Linked DNA regions of Homo sapiens: region 2 is linked to region 1. A link means that fine-mapping ties the variant in region 1 to the expression of a gene that starts in the linked region. Tissue or cell type: whole blood. Region 1 holds a variant in brackets; the other region holds the start of a gene. All regions are shown on one strand. Distances are between the middles of the regions.

Region 1 (8,187 bases):
AGGATCACTTGAGCCCATGAGGTCGAAGCTGCAGTGAGCCATGATTGTGCCACTGCATTCCAGCCTGGGTGACAGAGTGAGACCTCATCTCTTAATTAAAAATAAATAAATGACTACATATATAACCTGACTCCTGTTGCCATGCAGTTTGCAAGAAAAAAGTATGAGAAGTGATTCCAACTTTCATACTAACTGGAGAGATCAGAATATTGCCTGACTTGAGGATGAGGGAGTGCATGGAAAGACAGGAAATGTTGGTGATAAGACAGTTTGTTCAGCTCTGAAGTTGCCCCGGCTTTCATTATAGGAAAAAAGGAGAGTACTAACTCCAAAAGAGAAACAACAAAAAAAGGTCATTTGTTTAAAAATTCTATATTTCTCATAATACAACAAAACTATCTCAGCATTGGCCAATAAAACAATAAATCCACTGTTTGTCATTTTAATAATCTTATCTAAAGTGTTTACTGCTATAAATATGTATTTACTTGTTGGAATGTAAATAATTGCTGGGGTTTTTTAAAGTCACTAATTAGAGTTACTATTAAAGGAGGCCTCCAACTGCCTGTGGCAGATATTAAAGTTTATTACCAGTAGTCTCACACCTTTAACTAAGACAATATGCTTCGGAGGCCTGGAATATGCCTGATCTCATTAGCATTAAGCCAGCTGTCAGTTAATTGTGCAGAGCGCATTACAGCTTATAAATGGGAAATTGCGATTGCTCCTTGCTTTTCGTTAGGTTCCACCTGGCTTCCCTTCTGCAGAAGAGGCCTATAACTTCTTTACTTTCAACTTTGATCCCGAACCAGAAGGATCAGAGGAAAAACCAAAAGCAAGACATAGAGCGGGAACTAATCAAGAGGAGGAGGAAGGGGAAGAAGAAGAACCACCTGCACAAGGAGGAGGAAAGGAAATGGTATTTAATATCAGGATGGTAATGAGGTGTGGGTGGAGGGCTAGGAGGAAAAAGCTGATGTCCCTGCAAGAAAGAAAGTGGCTGAGGAGAAACCTGCCACCACCAGGAGAATGACACTCCACGTCTGAGTTGAAATCCCAAGTACTGAATTCACATGGCTCCCTGTAGCTCTGGGTTAGACCCTACAATGTGGTAGGAAGAACCTTGATTAAACCTGTTTATTTTTCTTTTGTGGAAAAAAGAATTAAATAATGTGGCTTGAGGGTTTTTCTTGCTAGACTCCACGTAATGATTAGTATTTATTCCATGTGCAAAATATGTTCCTCTGCAAGGCAAATGAAATCTTGGTCTCTCTCTTACCACAACCTTACAAAGTAAGCAGCATTTTGTGCCCAAACACCACACCCAGGCTACAACTCAAATTCTGCAACTGTGGGTGGTATGTGTGAGATAAAAGGAGAATAAGCCATTTAAAAATGGGCAAAGGTATTGAATAGACATTTCTTCAAAGAAGACATACAAATAGACAATAAGCCCATAAAAAGATTCTTAACACCAATCATCATAAGGGAAATGCAAATCAAACCCACAATGAGATACCCCTGCACATCCATTAGAATGGCGCTTATCAAAAAATAAGTGTTATAGAGGATATGGAGAAATTGGACTTTGGTGCGTTGCTTGTAGCCATGTAAAACAGTGCAGCTGCTGTGAAAAACAGTATGGTGGTCCTTCAAAAGTTAACCACAGATTTACAATATGATCCAGCAATTCAATTCCACTCTGTGTATATATCCAAAAACACTGAAGACAAGAATTTGAACATATACTTGTGCACCGATGTTCATAGCAGCATTATTCACAAAAGCCAAAAGGTAGAAGCAACCCAAGTGTTCATCGGAAGATAAATGGATAAACATAAATATACAATGGAATATTATACAACCGCAGAAAGCATGGAAATTCTGACACATGCCACAACATAGATATACCTTGAAGACATTACACTAAGAAAAATAAGCCAGTCACAAAAGAATAAATATTGTGTGATTTCACTTATATGAGCTACATTGTATCATCAAAATCATAGAGACAGAAAGTAGAATGGTGGTTGTCAGAGGTTAGAGGAAGGAGGGAATGTTTAATGGGTATAGAATTTCAGTCTGGGAAGATGGATGGATGGTGGTAAGGGTAGAATCACAATATGAATTTACTTAATGCCACTGAACTGTTCACCTAAAAATGGTTAAAATGGGCCGGGTGCGGTGGCCTGTAATCCCAGCTTTGGGAGGCCGAGGAGGGCGGATCACCTAAGGTCAGGAGTTCACGACCAGGCTTGGCCAACGTGGTGAAACCCTGTCTCTACTAAAATTACAAAAATTAGCTGGGTGTGGTGGCAGGCACCTGTAATCCAGCTACTCAGGAGGCTGAGGCAGGAGTATTACTTGAACACGAGAGGCAGACGTTGCAGTGAGCCGAGATTGCGCTATTGCACTCCAGCCTAGATGACAAAGCAAGACTCTGTCTCAAAAAAAAAAAAAAGGTTAAAATGGTGGACTTCATGTTATATATATTTTACCACATTAAAAATAAGGAAAACACACTAGGATATTCTAGTATTCACATAATTGGCATACTTCTGTGCTTCACTTACAATCTCCTCCCTTGAAAAATGCCTCCCGGAAATGTACTTTTTTTACCTAGATCTACAGAAGCTTGGGAATATTTTAGCTTATTCTATAACAATCATTCTACAAATCAGCATTCAGGCCATTCAACATTGCTTGAGTGTCCTCCTGACATGACAGCTAACTTCCCAAAAGCAAGTGATCTAGGGGAGAACCCAAAAAAGAAGCCACAGTTCCTTTTATGACCTAGTCTCAGGAGCCACATACTGTCACTTCTGCCATATTCTACTCAGGAGAAGCAAGTCACGAGACGTAGTGCACTCTCAAATGGAGGAGAATTGGGCTTCACCTGTTGAAGATAGAAGTCTCCAATTGCGAATATCTTCTGAAATTATGGCACTTTCCTCCAAAGGCCACTTCTCCCTTCCTTTTGCCTATTCACTGCCCCAGAAGCTCTGTTCCTAAAACTGCTCTTTTAAATCACACACATTTGGAAGCCCTTCCCTATAGTCCATGCTCTGCTCTGCCCAGACACTTTTAAAGTATTTTCGTCTTCAAGGTTCATTTAGCCTTTTTGAACAAAGTTTTAGATCCTCTGTAGCCCCTTTCGCTAGCTCCCCTTTTCTGTCTTCTCTGCAGTTTTTCTCTGGGTGATTTTGCTCACCACGAAGCAGAGGTGGGGCAGGAGAAGGAAGATTACACACTGCCATCTGGTGATCTTTCTCTTTTCACTTGTTTGATGTTTTGGCATTCTCTGTCTTCAAGTTAAGTTAAAAGCATGGTTTCTACATAGATTCCCTTTTTCCTTCTTATTCTTTTGTGTACTTGGGGAGGAAATCTTAAGAGGCAGGTAGCTAGACTGCCATCATTGTCTTTAGCTACCTGAAAGTCTCCACAGGATTTTAAAAGATGTTGCTCATAAATGGACACCAGGTTTAAATTTTTAAAAGAAGGAGAAGGAGAAAGAAAAAGAAGAGGAAGGAAGAGAAGACGTTTAGAAAATATCCAAACAAAATCAATATATGTCAGCTAACATTTGTGATTATAGCCTCTTTGCTTTGAATTTTTAAGTGTATCATTTAATTTTATCCCCACAAAGTGCTTAGAGGTAAACTCCATTACTATAACTATCTTATAAGTGAGGAAACTGAGGATCAGAAGGTTAAATAAGCTGTTTCAAGTTCCTCAGGCAGTATATGGTGAAGCTGGGATTTAAACCCAGGCAGTCTGAACAGGGTGTGTGGACTGTGCACCTATACACTTGGTGCCTTTTCCCTTGGTTTAGTGCCAGGTGGAAGGTTAAACTGCTACATAAATTATGAGCCCAATTCTTTACATAAATGGCAAGAAGCAAGCAGTCTCATAGGAGGCCAGATTTGTTGGGATTTTGATTGTTTTGCTTACCACTTCTCTTCTGAAACAGCCATCTCTGATTTTGACATCTTCCAGGTGTGCAGAATACTGCAAAACAATTTTTTTAAAAACCCACTTGTTAAATATGAAAGGTTATATAGTTCTATGCTTTCACTTTTTTAAAAAAAGGAAAAGATAAAGTTGTAGGAAATGTTAAGTTTCATGAGTTTGGTATTGTGAATTATTTTTCTAACTAAGAATCTTAGCATGATTTTTTCTTGTTACTTTTTAACATTATGCAGGATGAGGAAGAACTGCTTAATGGTGATGATGCCGAGGACTTCCT[A/G]TTGGGCTTAGATCACGTGGCTGACGATTTTGTAGCAGTCAGACCTGCAGATTATGAAAGCATCCATGATCGGCTGCAGATGGAAAGAGAAATGCTCTTCATACCCAGTAGGCAGACAGGTACTTGCTCTTTTTATTTTCTTGTTCAGCTTAGACATCGTCACTTACCTTGTCATGAAATATGGCTAGTGTATAAGGATGCCTCATCTCCAGAACTGATTCCAGTTTCTAATCTAACAATCAAGAAATATCTTCAAACAAACAAAAAAAACACAACATGGAAAAATATCCATTCAACAAACACTTATTGATAGACTAATGGAAGATATACCAGAGTACTGTGGGAACCCTTTATCAAATCAGTGATCCATTACAGGGGCTTAGAGTTTATGAGAACAGCCTTTCTTTCTTCTTAAGTTTATCCCCAACCTTCCCTAAGTCACCATCTCCTGTGTATTTTCTTACTACTCTATGGCGTGATCTTGTAGAGACCTTTGCTTCCTGTTGCTGCCTATCACTCCCACTATGATTCAAGCTCCAAGGCAGCAGGGGCCTGGCCTGGATTCCCAGAGTCTCATCTGTGCCTGGCACAAGGAGGCTCTCAGTAAAGATGTGTTCTAGGAATGAATAAAGCCGTGAATGAATAAATGAGGTAATGATCACGTTCAATCAAATAAACTTGTTCATTTACAAAGCACGTCCTCATACTTTACCTCATTTAATTCTCCCAGAAGCCCAGTTAAGTAGATTAGTATCTCTTTTGTACAGGAGGAGAGAGTTCAAAGAAGTGCCTGGCCCTAATTCACCCAGCTGAAGAGTAATAGAACTAAAACTTGTCTCTCATCCTATGATTTGAATACTACCTTCTTCTCAGTATGCCACACTGATGAGTTACATATTAAATTTTTAGGCGTTTTCTTTAAATACCTGATTCTACAACATACTGCTACAAGTGAGCACATTCATCTTTTCCTTGGTTCTGCTTTTAAAAATTAATTTGGAAAATTTGCATTTTCTAAGAACATAAATGAAATCTCTGGTGATTAATTCACCAAACTGCAGTTTGAGATATTTAGATTGGCCCTAATGTTTATTTTATTTATTTATAAACGATCTAGTCCCTACATATAAAAAGCTTCCTGAGAATGTACAGCCCAGGTTCCTGGAAGATGAAGGCCTTTACACCGGGGTAAGACCAGAGGTGGCACGCACCAATCAGAACATCATGGAGAACAGATTGCTGATGCAGGACCCCGTAAGTGTGCACCCTCTGCTCTCAGGTGTAGCCTGGGCACACTAGACATAGCTTTTATTTTCCTAACAGGGCAGTCATTGCATCCACTGTACTCATTTCCTCTTGAGGTTATCCACAGAAAGTGGTTCATTTTTTTTTTTTTAACTTTCTCTCTCAGTACATTTATTGATCCTCAAATAACATAACTTCTCAACTGCTCAAAACCCATCTTTGCTAGCTAGATCTGGGCTTTTCCTGCTAAACCAGATCCTGGCAACATTTTCCTACTTGACAGAATTTTTAAATTATCCATAGGTAGAATAGTTTCACTTTTGAGTTTTTATTCTGTGTTTTTTTTTCTTAAATGTTTAATTAATAGAAGATAAATTTTTCTTAAGCACTCATTTAAGCTCTTTAAAATACTTTTTAGGAAGCCAGGGTGTATATTTTAAATCAATTGTGAGAAGTGTTAGTGAAGACTTGATTTCTAATGGAAACAGAACTTTTACAGTTCTGTTGGGGGAGGAAGTACATGAAATATATATGTTGACACAGAATTTTCAAGAAATGTTGTTTGTGTTGTGAACCATTTTCTGTTCGATTAGAAGAAAATGTTGCCATTCCCTCTGCTTCATCTACAGGAAAGAAGATGGTTTGGAGATGACGGCAGGATCCTAGCTCTGCCAAACCCCATCAAGCCATTTCCTTCAAGGCCGCCAGTACTAACACAGGAGCAGAGCATTAAGGCAGAGCTTGAAACACTGTATAAAAAGGTAGACACTCCCCTCTCTCCACTTTTATTAAATGAAATTGAAAGTGCTTTGCTTTCTGAATAGCTTGGGGTGCTATATTTATAACATTCTACTTTAATTTTTTAAATAATTCACTATCTTACACATAAAGAACAAACATCAGGCATATTATGTAAGAGTAAGTCTAATTATACTCAATGCATCCCTTCTTTTTTTTTTTTTTTTTTTTTTTGAGACGGAGTCTCGCTGTCGCCCAGGTTGGAGTGCAGTGGCGCGATCTCGGCTCACTGCAGGCTCCGCCTCCCGGGTTCACGCCATTCTCCTGCCTCAGCCTTTTGAGTAGCTGGGACTACAGGTGCCCGCCACCTCGCCCGGCTAATTTTTTGTATTTTTAGTAGAGATGGGGTTTCACCGTGTTAGCCAGGATGGTCTCGATCTCCTGACCTCGTGATCCGCCCACCTCAGCCTCCCAAAGTGCTGGGATTACAGGTGTGAGCCACCGCGCCCAGCCCAATGCATCCCTTCTTAAACAAGGAGTGAGTTTCCTAGCTAGGAATGACTGAGTCTGCATCTTTTTTTACACATCCAGGTTAGCTACACTTATTTTTCTTCTTTTGCCCTCTCTTTTCTCTTGTTATCTCACATTTGCTGCAGGACCACTTCCCATTTGTTGTCTCTTTATTATATAACCGGAGAGTTTCTATCCTTGCAAATCCTTTATATTGTATTTTCCTAAGTCTGGTAACAAGCTGCCTAATTCCAGCCCTTGCTCTACCATTCACTGGGTGAACTTGGCCATTAGTCTCTCATGCCTCAATGTCTTCATCTGTAAGGCAGGCACGATAGCAGTGTCTGCCTCCCAGGCTTGCTGTGTAAATTGAATGAGGTAATCCACATAAGTGTCTAAAACAGACCTAGTAACTGCTGGCTATCATTACAGTTCCCTGCCCTCATATTTAATTGCATTGCTCTTGCTTTCCTGGGTGTATTAATCTGTTATCACGCTGCTGATAAAGGCATACCCAAGACTGGGCAATTTACAAAAAAAAGAGGTTTAATGGACTTACAGTTCTACATGGCTGGGAAGACCTCACAATCATGGCAAAAGGCAAGGAGGAGCAAGTCACGTCTTACATGGATGGCAGCAGGCAAAAAGAGAGCTTGTGCAGGGAAACTCCCGTTTATAAAACCATCAGATCTTGTGAAACTCATTCACTATCATGAGAACAGTGCAGGAAAGACCCACCCCCATAATTCAATCACCTCCCACCCGGTTCCTCCCATGAAACCTGGGAATTGTGGGAGTTACAATTCAAGATGAGATTTGGGTAGGAACACAGCCAAACCATATCATTTCACCCCTGGCCCCTCCCAAATCTGTCCTCACATTTCAAAACCAATCATTGCCTTCCCAACAACTCCCCCAAAGTTTTAACTCATTTCAGCATCAACTCAAAAGTCCATAGTCTAACATCCCATCTGAGACAAAGCAAGTCCCTTCTGCCTATGAGTCTGTAAAATCAAAAGCAAGTTAGTTACTTCCTAGATACAATGGAGGTATAGGTATTGGGTAAACATGTCTCGCATTCCGGTCATGCTGATGCAAGAGTTAGGTTCCCATGGTCTTGGGCAGCTTCGCCTCTGTGGCTTTGCAGGGTACAGCCTCCCTCCTGGCTGCTTTCATGAGCTGGTGTTGAGTGTCTGCAGCTTTTCCAGGTACACAGTGCAAGCTGTCAGTGGATCTACTATTCTGGGGTCTGGAGGACAGTGGCCCTCTTCTTATAGCTCCACTAGGCAGTGCCCCAGTAGGAACTCAGTGTGGGAGCTCCAACCGCACATTTCCCTTCTGCACTGCCCTAGCAGAGGTTCTCCATGAGAGCCCTCCCCCTGCAGCAAACTTCTGCCTGGGCATCCAGACATTTCCATACATCTAGGCAGAGGTTCTCAAACCTCAGT
Region 2 (8,187 bases), 45 kb before region 1:
AAGAACATAAATGCAAAAATTTCTAGAAAGTGGTAATTAAATCCAATATTAATTTTTGAAGTATCTTGACAAAATTGAGTGTATCCCAGGAATGCAAGCACAATTTGACATTAAAATGCCTGATAATGCAATTCTCTACACTAATAGATGAAAGAATAAAAATAATATTTAATTATCTCAAAAGATGTAGAAAAAAGCTTGTGATAATGTGATTCAACATTTATTCTTGATGAAAAACTCTTTAGCCAACTAGGAACACTTAACCAAAAGAATGAGATTTTTGTGTTATGATTTAAAATAAATTTGCTAGATTCATTTATTTTGCTTACATAAGAACTTTTGCAAGTAATGGTGTTTTGCAATGATACTTTTTAATATTTTTGGAACTTAAGAAGTTGTATGATTCTTATGAATTAGTTCAGTATTAAAGATCAAAGAGGACGTGCCCAGCTAGCTCTGTTGGCAGACCATGAGACTTTTAAAATATCAGGGAGGTAATAATCAGACGGTTAATTAGCAAAAGAGTGGTGAACAAGTCCTTCCTCTCATGGCAGCTGACCATTTCAAGTAGATAATCTCTTACGGTAAACATTCATATTTTTCTTCACTTAATAAACCTTGCAACATTTACTATGTGCCAGGACTGTCCTAAGTGCTTCACAATTATTAACTTAACAAATTTCCTAACAACTCTCTCTGGAATAGTTACTATTATTAAACCTCAGTTTCCTACAGAGAAGGAAACTGAAACCTAGAAAGGTTAAGAAAGTTGACCGAGATCCCTCAGTTGTAAGACAGAGCATTCAACTTCTTTCTCTCTCCTCTCCTTCTGGTACTGTACTGGATATGGTGGACCTCATCAATTTCTCCCTGTATCTTTTACCTACTCTTTCCTATTTTCAATATCTCTGTGCCACATTTCAATTTTTTAAACCTATCTTTTGCATCTCTTCAGCTCTCTCATCTACAGTTTAGCACATTCTTTGACTTTTATCTAAATTTGTGACTGTATTATTTATTTCTAAAAGTTCTATCTGGTTACTTTTTGAATTTGTCTGATCTTTTTGATAGTGTCTCACTCTTCTTTCATATTTTCAAATCCTCCTTGTATCTTCTTGAATATTTGGTCATTGTTATTTTTCCACTCTCCATCTGATTATTGTATTGCAAGAAACTCTTGAGTATCTAATAGTGTCCTCTGGTTTGTCTGTGGACTCTTGAGTGTTTCTCTTCTGTTGTCTAATTTTGGGTTGTGAGCTCATCTTCCTCTGTGTTTATTTGTGGACATCCTGAATTGTCCAATTGAAGGTGTGTTCCTCCAGAAAAGTTTTGTAATAACTTCTGCCTGGCACCCCACGGGGATACAGTAGACAGAGGCCACTTTTTAAAAGTTATCACTTAGGGGCCTCCTAAAATATATAAGGAGCATAAATAAGACAAACTGCATGGTGCAAACCAATGGTTGTAAATTCTTCATATTTTTCTCACCACATGCAGAATACAAGCCAAGACAGACAAGTTTTCTTATTGTCTTCTTTTACCAGCACGAGATAGTAGATTGTCCCCTTCAATTGGAAAATACATTATTTCATACAGTTGTTCTTGTATTACTCCTTTGGTAAATTATACTTTTCCATTTTCATGGTTCTCTCTTTTTATAACTACAAGCATTAAATTTCCTAGCCTGAGATCCTTTAATGTTTTTTGTAATGCTTTTCTGTAAGGGCAATATGCTAGCTTTGTCATTGGAGGATCCAGAAATGTCAGTATGTAGGGTCTGTGCTTTATAATCATTCAGTTTTTCCAGAAAATAATTTTCTACTTTCTCCAGTTTTGTGCAGGTAGAGGTAGGATGGGGGAGCCAATGGCATGTTCTTGATTGTCTAAGTTCTTGAGAAAGGTTCAGAAAGGGCCCTGCAACATCTTCATTTCATATACAGTTTTCAATCCTGAGACACACTCACTTGCTGCAGTACCTGGGAACTTGAGACCAGAGAGTCTCTGGTTTAACTTCCCTAGAAAAGAAACCGCCAGTCTCCTTTGGGCAGCAGCAGATGAGGCAGATGTGGAGGACGGAAATTATGCCTGAGGAATGGGCATTTTTCAGGCTGCCAAGAAAAAGGATCCTGAGGATCAATCCCTTAATATACAGACTTTCAAATCTTCCTGCATTTTTAGCCCCGTATCTCTCCCCACCTTCCTTAGTCTATGGTTGTATTAGTTTCCTGATGCTGTTGTAACAAAGTACCACACACTGAGTGGCTTAAACAGCAGAAATTTTCTAACAATTCAGGAGACTAGAAATTTGAAATCAAGGTGTGGCAGGGTTGATTCTTTGTGAAGCTTCAAGAGACAGTCTGTTCCAGGCCTCTCTCCTGGCTGCTGATAGCCTTGAGTGTTCCCTGGCTTGGAGATGGTGCTCTCCCCATGTCTTCACGTTGCCTTTCTTCTATTTTGTCTGTCTCTGAATCCAAATTTCCCCTTTTGTAAGGACGCAATCATCTTGGATTAGATCTCACTCTAATGACTTCATTTTAATGTGATTACCTCTGTAAATACCCTATCTCCAAATAAGGTCCCATTCTGAGATACTGAGGTTAGGACTTCAGCATCTTTGGGGATGAGAGAGAACACAATTCAGCTATAACACTGCTGCCCCAAATCCTGGCACAGTAAATCAGCTCATTTCCTCATATTCATGCCTACGTGCACACCCCATCATACACAGACACACACACACATACATACACGTACAGAGACACAAACACAAATACATTGACACATACACATGCATGCAGGCTGTGTCAAAAAATGTACTCTGGATTTGTTTTAATTAGGTATGGTAAGACACACAGACACAAACATGATTGGCACAAAAGAAGAAGTTTATACTTAACAGATCCCTAGAAACAAGAAGCATGGTGTCTTGGTTCGTTTTCTGTTGTTGTAACAGAATACACAGACTGGGCAATTTATAATGAACAGAAATTTATTTTTCACAGTTCTGGTGGCTGGGAAGTCCAAGATCAAGGGGCTGGCATCCTGCAAGGGTCTTCTTGCTGCACCATCCTATGGTGCAAGGCAAGAAAACATGAGAGCAAGAAAGAGAAAGAGAGAAAACGAGGCCAAATTCATTCTTTTATAAGGAATCCACTCCTGCAATAATGGCATTAATGCATTTATGAGGGCAGAGCCCTACAGCCTAATTGCCTCTCATTAGGTGCCACCTCCCGACACCATTGTGTTAGGGATTAAGTTTCCAATACATGCTTTTGGGAAGACACATTCAAATCATAGAACATGGCATGCCACACAGGACCACATAGGGAAGAACCAATGTTGGTCAGAAGGCAGAACGGAGACAGCAGAGTACAGCACAGAGCCTTTACTAGGGTTTTCCCAGGAAGGAATAGGTGAAGCAGGGTAGGGTGCTGCATAAATTTAGGAGTGGATAGCTTGAATAATCGTGGTGTTCTCTGGGCTATAGTGGTCTGGTATCTGGACCTGGGGTGACTTAGGACAGGAGGAATATTGGCTTAGTGTGTGAGAGTTTGATAATGGAGATGGTTGTGTGGGCTCTGGATTGGTTGGCTTGTATATCAAAGGAGACTTTGCATATTTCAGGGGAATCATTTGCTATCTCTAGAAATTAGCTAACATAGGAGAATCAGTTTCTCCAGGATCAAGGCTCCAAATGCCAGAGCATCAAGAATACAGAAAATAAGAAGATACAGTCAATACACATACACACAAACATACACACACCATACACACAGACACAAATACACACAAACACATGTGCACATACACACTAGTCTATTGGAGTGTGTTTCCTTGGCTCCATTCATTCTATTACTCTTCCAGCTACTTTGCCTCCTACCTCTCCCTCTTTTTTTTTTTCCAACTTTTTTGAGCCATAACATTTATATCCGTTTTCAGGAATTGCAGTGGGATTCAGAGAATAGGCAAAGATTAAACTTGTGCGTTCAACCTTCCACTTTTAACTGGAAAACACTCAAGTGCAACATTTGTTGGTACTCTGCAGCACCTCCACAGAGCTTTTGCTGCTGCCACGTTAGACAGCTTCACCATGTAATGACGACCTTTTAAGATTCTAAATCCCCCCACCTCTGAGCCTGTTCTTCATTGGAAATGCAAGACGACCGGATGACATGAGGGAGGGGCAGCTCTTAAGGCTTGACCTAATTTCCAGTGCTGCTCATGTTGATTTCTCTCCGTCCTTCTACTGCAGGCTGTGCGTCTCTGCTTACCCAGCATGCTTGTACTCCACTACTGGAAGTAGCCTGTCACTTTAAAGGAAAAAAAAAAAAGCTACCGAGTGACCTTCCTTAGGAACGGGTTGCTAAGCTGGTGTTTTTGCTCCAAGACATGGCTGCAGCTTCCCAGGGAGGAGCCCAGGGGCATCTCCAACACTCAGCCTTTCCCTCCGGACCCTTTTAAAAGATTCAACAGCACCGTCTCTCTCCACTTCCATCCTAGAATGCAGAATCTGCAAAGTGCCTTTTGTAAAGTTTCTTAAGGTAAATCAGTCCCTAACCGGACTTTAGGCTGCAACAGTGATTTCCTGTTTTCAGTTACCCGGCTTGAAGTTCAGCCTCTCCAGGATACCGTGAGACTGGATTTAATGAATTGTAAATTTAGGGGCTCTCATCGTTATTTATGTTTTTACTTTCTGAAATGGGAACATAGACCATTACTTGGCAGCTTTGATTTGAGCTGCTATCTGGTATCTGGTTTGCAGGAAATGTAAGTCCAGTTCATCACAAGTCCTGAGTGAAAATGCTCTCTGACCAAAGCTCTGTGAAACATTAGCTGCGTGTTGCATTTATGGGCCTTTTAGTTCAAACTGGCTTAAGGGGAGAAGCACTAATTACTGCAAAATACACTTTTCTTGGTATGAGACAGAGAAAGGGCTACTAACCACAGTGCTAAGAGTTGCTGTGCTTTCCAAAGACTTCAAGAAAATGTACTGGCTACAACTTAAGCTGATTGTTTGTTTCCCTTCATTGCAAAGAGGTGGTATGAAAAGCTAATAAAGTCAAATAAGAAATATGTTTGCTACTGCATTTTCATATAACCTTTTCTGCAAATAAATTCAGCACCAGCATGAAATCTCTCTCTCTCTCTCTCTCTCTCTCTCTCTCTCTCTCTCTATATATATATATATATATATATATATATATATATATATATATATCCTAGAGCTCACTTATAGAGTCATTCATTCAAACATTTATGGAGCATCAACAATGCACCAGGCAATGAATTTAAGTTTAGAGTGTGCAAACATAAATTAGACTAGGTCAGAAGCTCAGAATTTGCTGGGAAAACAGACCTATAAACACATGATAAGAGTACAATGAGCTAAGTGCCATAAGAGATTTATAAAAACACTGAGAGGACAGTGGGATGACATCCAGGGAGGGGCTTCCAGTACTTAGCACATCATGTAAATGCACTGGTCATATATCACGTAACACAGCTCAAATATGGTACTCATGTGTACTCTTCAAGGCCAGTGTACATTATATCGAGCTGATTAAATGATTCTATAAAGCTATTGGTCACTAACCTTATGCTAAGGGAAACTGCAGCTGGAATAACTTGTAGAATAAGATAATGTATTCCAAAACAATGTATGTGGCACCTCCCCAGGTGTCCAAGCTCCAGGAGGGAACAGAAAAATGTTCTCAGGGTGTGAGGAAGAAAATACTCATGGGTAGAAGTGCAGGAGGTTTCAGAAGCACCATAAATGGAAACAGCAAGGCAACTGCCCTGGGCCTGGCTGAAGGGAGGGAGACATGAAACATGAGTTATGGTAGCTGGGGGTTGAAGATTGGAGCTGAAGGTGGGTGGGCTTGAACATCACCTAAGGTCTTTCTCATGACTCCTCTTCTATCCCCCAAGCTCTTTTCCCTCCTCATTCCTTTTTTCCACTTTCCCTCCCCACAATCACTTTTTCTTAGTAACAAAACCTACCAATATTGAGAGCCCAGCCTGTGCTAGGCATTTTACTACACACATTTCATCATTTAGCCCTTATAAATTAATCATCCTTCAAGGTAGGAAGTATGATTGCAATGTTGCAGACAAAAAAAAAAAAAACGTGTCTCAGAGAAGGGAGGGCATTGTTCCAAGATCACACAGCTAATAAATAAAGCTGAAGTTGGAACTCAGGTCCACATATTCCTTGGCAAAGAAATATGTGGACCACTCTTCCTATAAACCCATGTTTTTGCCATCCTGGAGTAGGGCATATATATTGTATGATTTTTTAAGCAACCAATATGGAGTTGAGATGCGTTGTATCTCAACCTCCAGGTATGGCTCTGACCCACTGATGACTCTTAGGAATAGTCCATTTATTCAGATGAAGGTGTCAGTACTTTCCTTGAAAAAATATATCTGGTTTTCTGCACTGAGTAAAATAAATCATTGGCTTAATGTAGCCTAAGCCTTTTCTCACCAGTGCAATGCTTCACAGCTTTCAACTGTAAATATTTCCAGAATAGCCCACTATTCTGGAAAGCACAGAATAATTATTGATGCCATTGCAAAAGCAAGAATAAATGGTGAGATGGAGGGGTAGAGTGGAGTGAGGGAGGACTCAGGAATCACAGAGTCTTGGGATCAAGTTCTGAATGTGACATTTAATAATTATAACTTTGGAAAAATCATGTAAATTGTCAGAGCCTCAGTTTACTCATACGCAAATTGGGGCACATACTACTAAGCCAGACATGTTATTGTGAGGACTAAAGAGAACATGTCTATAGTTAGCACAAAATAAGTGTGCAGTAAATCATAGCTATTTTGATGTTGCCAGTAGGAATATATTAACAAGTACCAGTGCATAAGATGATGGCAAACTGCATATTAAAACCAGGCAGTATTGATTTATCTTTTCTTAGCAACAGTGTTCATATAAAAAATAAATTTCGGTGTCATTTGATTTCCTTAGAAACTCATTTAAAGGAAATGATCAGGAAAGAATGAGGAAAAAAGAAAATCCCATTACATTTTTCATTTTCTACTTCTATTTTTTTCTTCCATATAAAGCATTTATTAACTTATAGAGAACTTTTTTTAGTTACTAAAATGTTTCACAGGTTTTTTTTTTTTTTCAGTTTGCAATGACCAGAGTTGTTCATTAGAGAGCTCTCATGTACTTTTGCATTTCATCTTTATTATCTGCCCCCTCATTCACTCTAGGTTATCTCCTTGCCTCTCTATTTTCTTAGCTGCTTTTACATTTTCCTTCCTCTATTTTTTGTACCCTGTGATGAGGTTTGTAGAGAAGACAATAGAATTTCAGATGCTTTATTTCCCTTTAACATGCTAATTCCCCTGTAGGGTCAGTGAAACCTTGATCTCAGATGAGCTGCTTAAATGACCTGACCAAGTCCCAGTTAAGATTTGGGTTCCAAGGATATTAGAAAGGGCTTATGATTTGTCAGCCATATGCCTGTTGTTTCTCCATGTGTTTTCTCATTTAATCCTCACAGCAGCCTAGAAGAAACAGTGGAGCTTTAAATAGTCCCAGAATGTGGCTATGGAACCACAGCCAATAAGTCAGTGACTTAATCATTCATTCGACAAGTATATATTGAATGTCCATGATGTCCCATAATCCTAGTCTCTGGGGGTAAACAATAAACAAAATAATGTTTCTGCCCTCTTGCAGCTATATTCTAATGGATATGGGCTGACATTAACAAGTAAGTATGTATGTTGAGTGGTAATAAGTACTGTGAAAAAATCATTGTAAGGTAGTTAGGGAATTCCAGGAGGGTGTTGGGAGGAGATCATTGTATTACGAATGGTCAGAGAAGAGCTCTCTGATAATAAAATTTCAGCTGAGACCTGAAGAAAGTGAAACAGCAAGAGCCATGCAGATATCTTGGGAAAAAGGAGAACTAGGTAGCAGGAACCGCAGCTACAAAGGTCCTGAGGCAACAGGATTCAAGTGCAAATCACACAGGGCTTGTAGGCCTTGGAAAAAACTTTGGGTTTTACTCTGTTGACAAAGGGAAATCATTGGAGGATTTTGAGTGAAGCAATGTGATTATGTCACTCAAATTTTCATCAATTTGCACTGGCTTCAATGCAGAGAATATGGTAGCCCAGCAATGTGGCAAGCTGAGAAATTAGGAGTTTCTTGCAGTA

What was found. PIP is the estimated chance that this variant, and not a neighbour inherited with it, causes the effect.
Region 2: it holds the start of CC2D2A, and the variant in region 1 is fine-mapped to the expression of CC2D2A in whole blood (TOPMed, PIP above 0.99).

Annotation. Positions count from the first base shown.
Region 1 is chr4:15,510,505-15,518,691 of GRCh38, forward strand. It overlaps CC2D2A (coiled-coil and C2 domain containing 2A), which reads left to right. Exons shown (of 37, transcript NM_001378615.1): 8 at 743-919; 9 at 4,203-4,365; 10 at 5,364-5,500; 11 at 6,121-6,252. It overlaps LOC124900672 (a long non-coding RNA gene), which reads right to left and starts at 4,203. Exons shown (of 2, transcript XR_007058062.1): 1 at 3,952-4,203. The variant A/G (reference allele first, on the strand shown) is at 4,247.
Region 2 is chr4:15,465,517-15,473,703 of GRCh38, forward strand. It overlaps CC2D2A (coiled-coil and C2 domain containing 2A), which reads left to right and starts at 4,366. Exons shown (of 37, transcript NM_001378615.1): 1 at 4,366-4,541.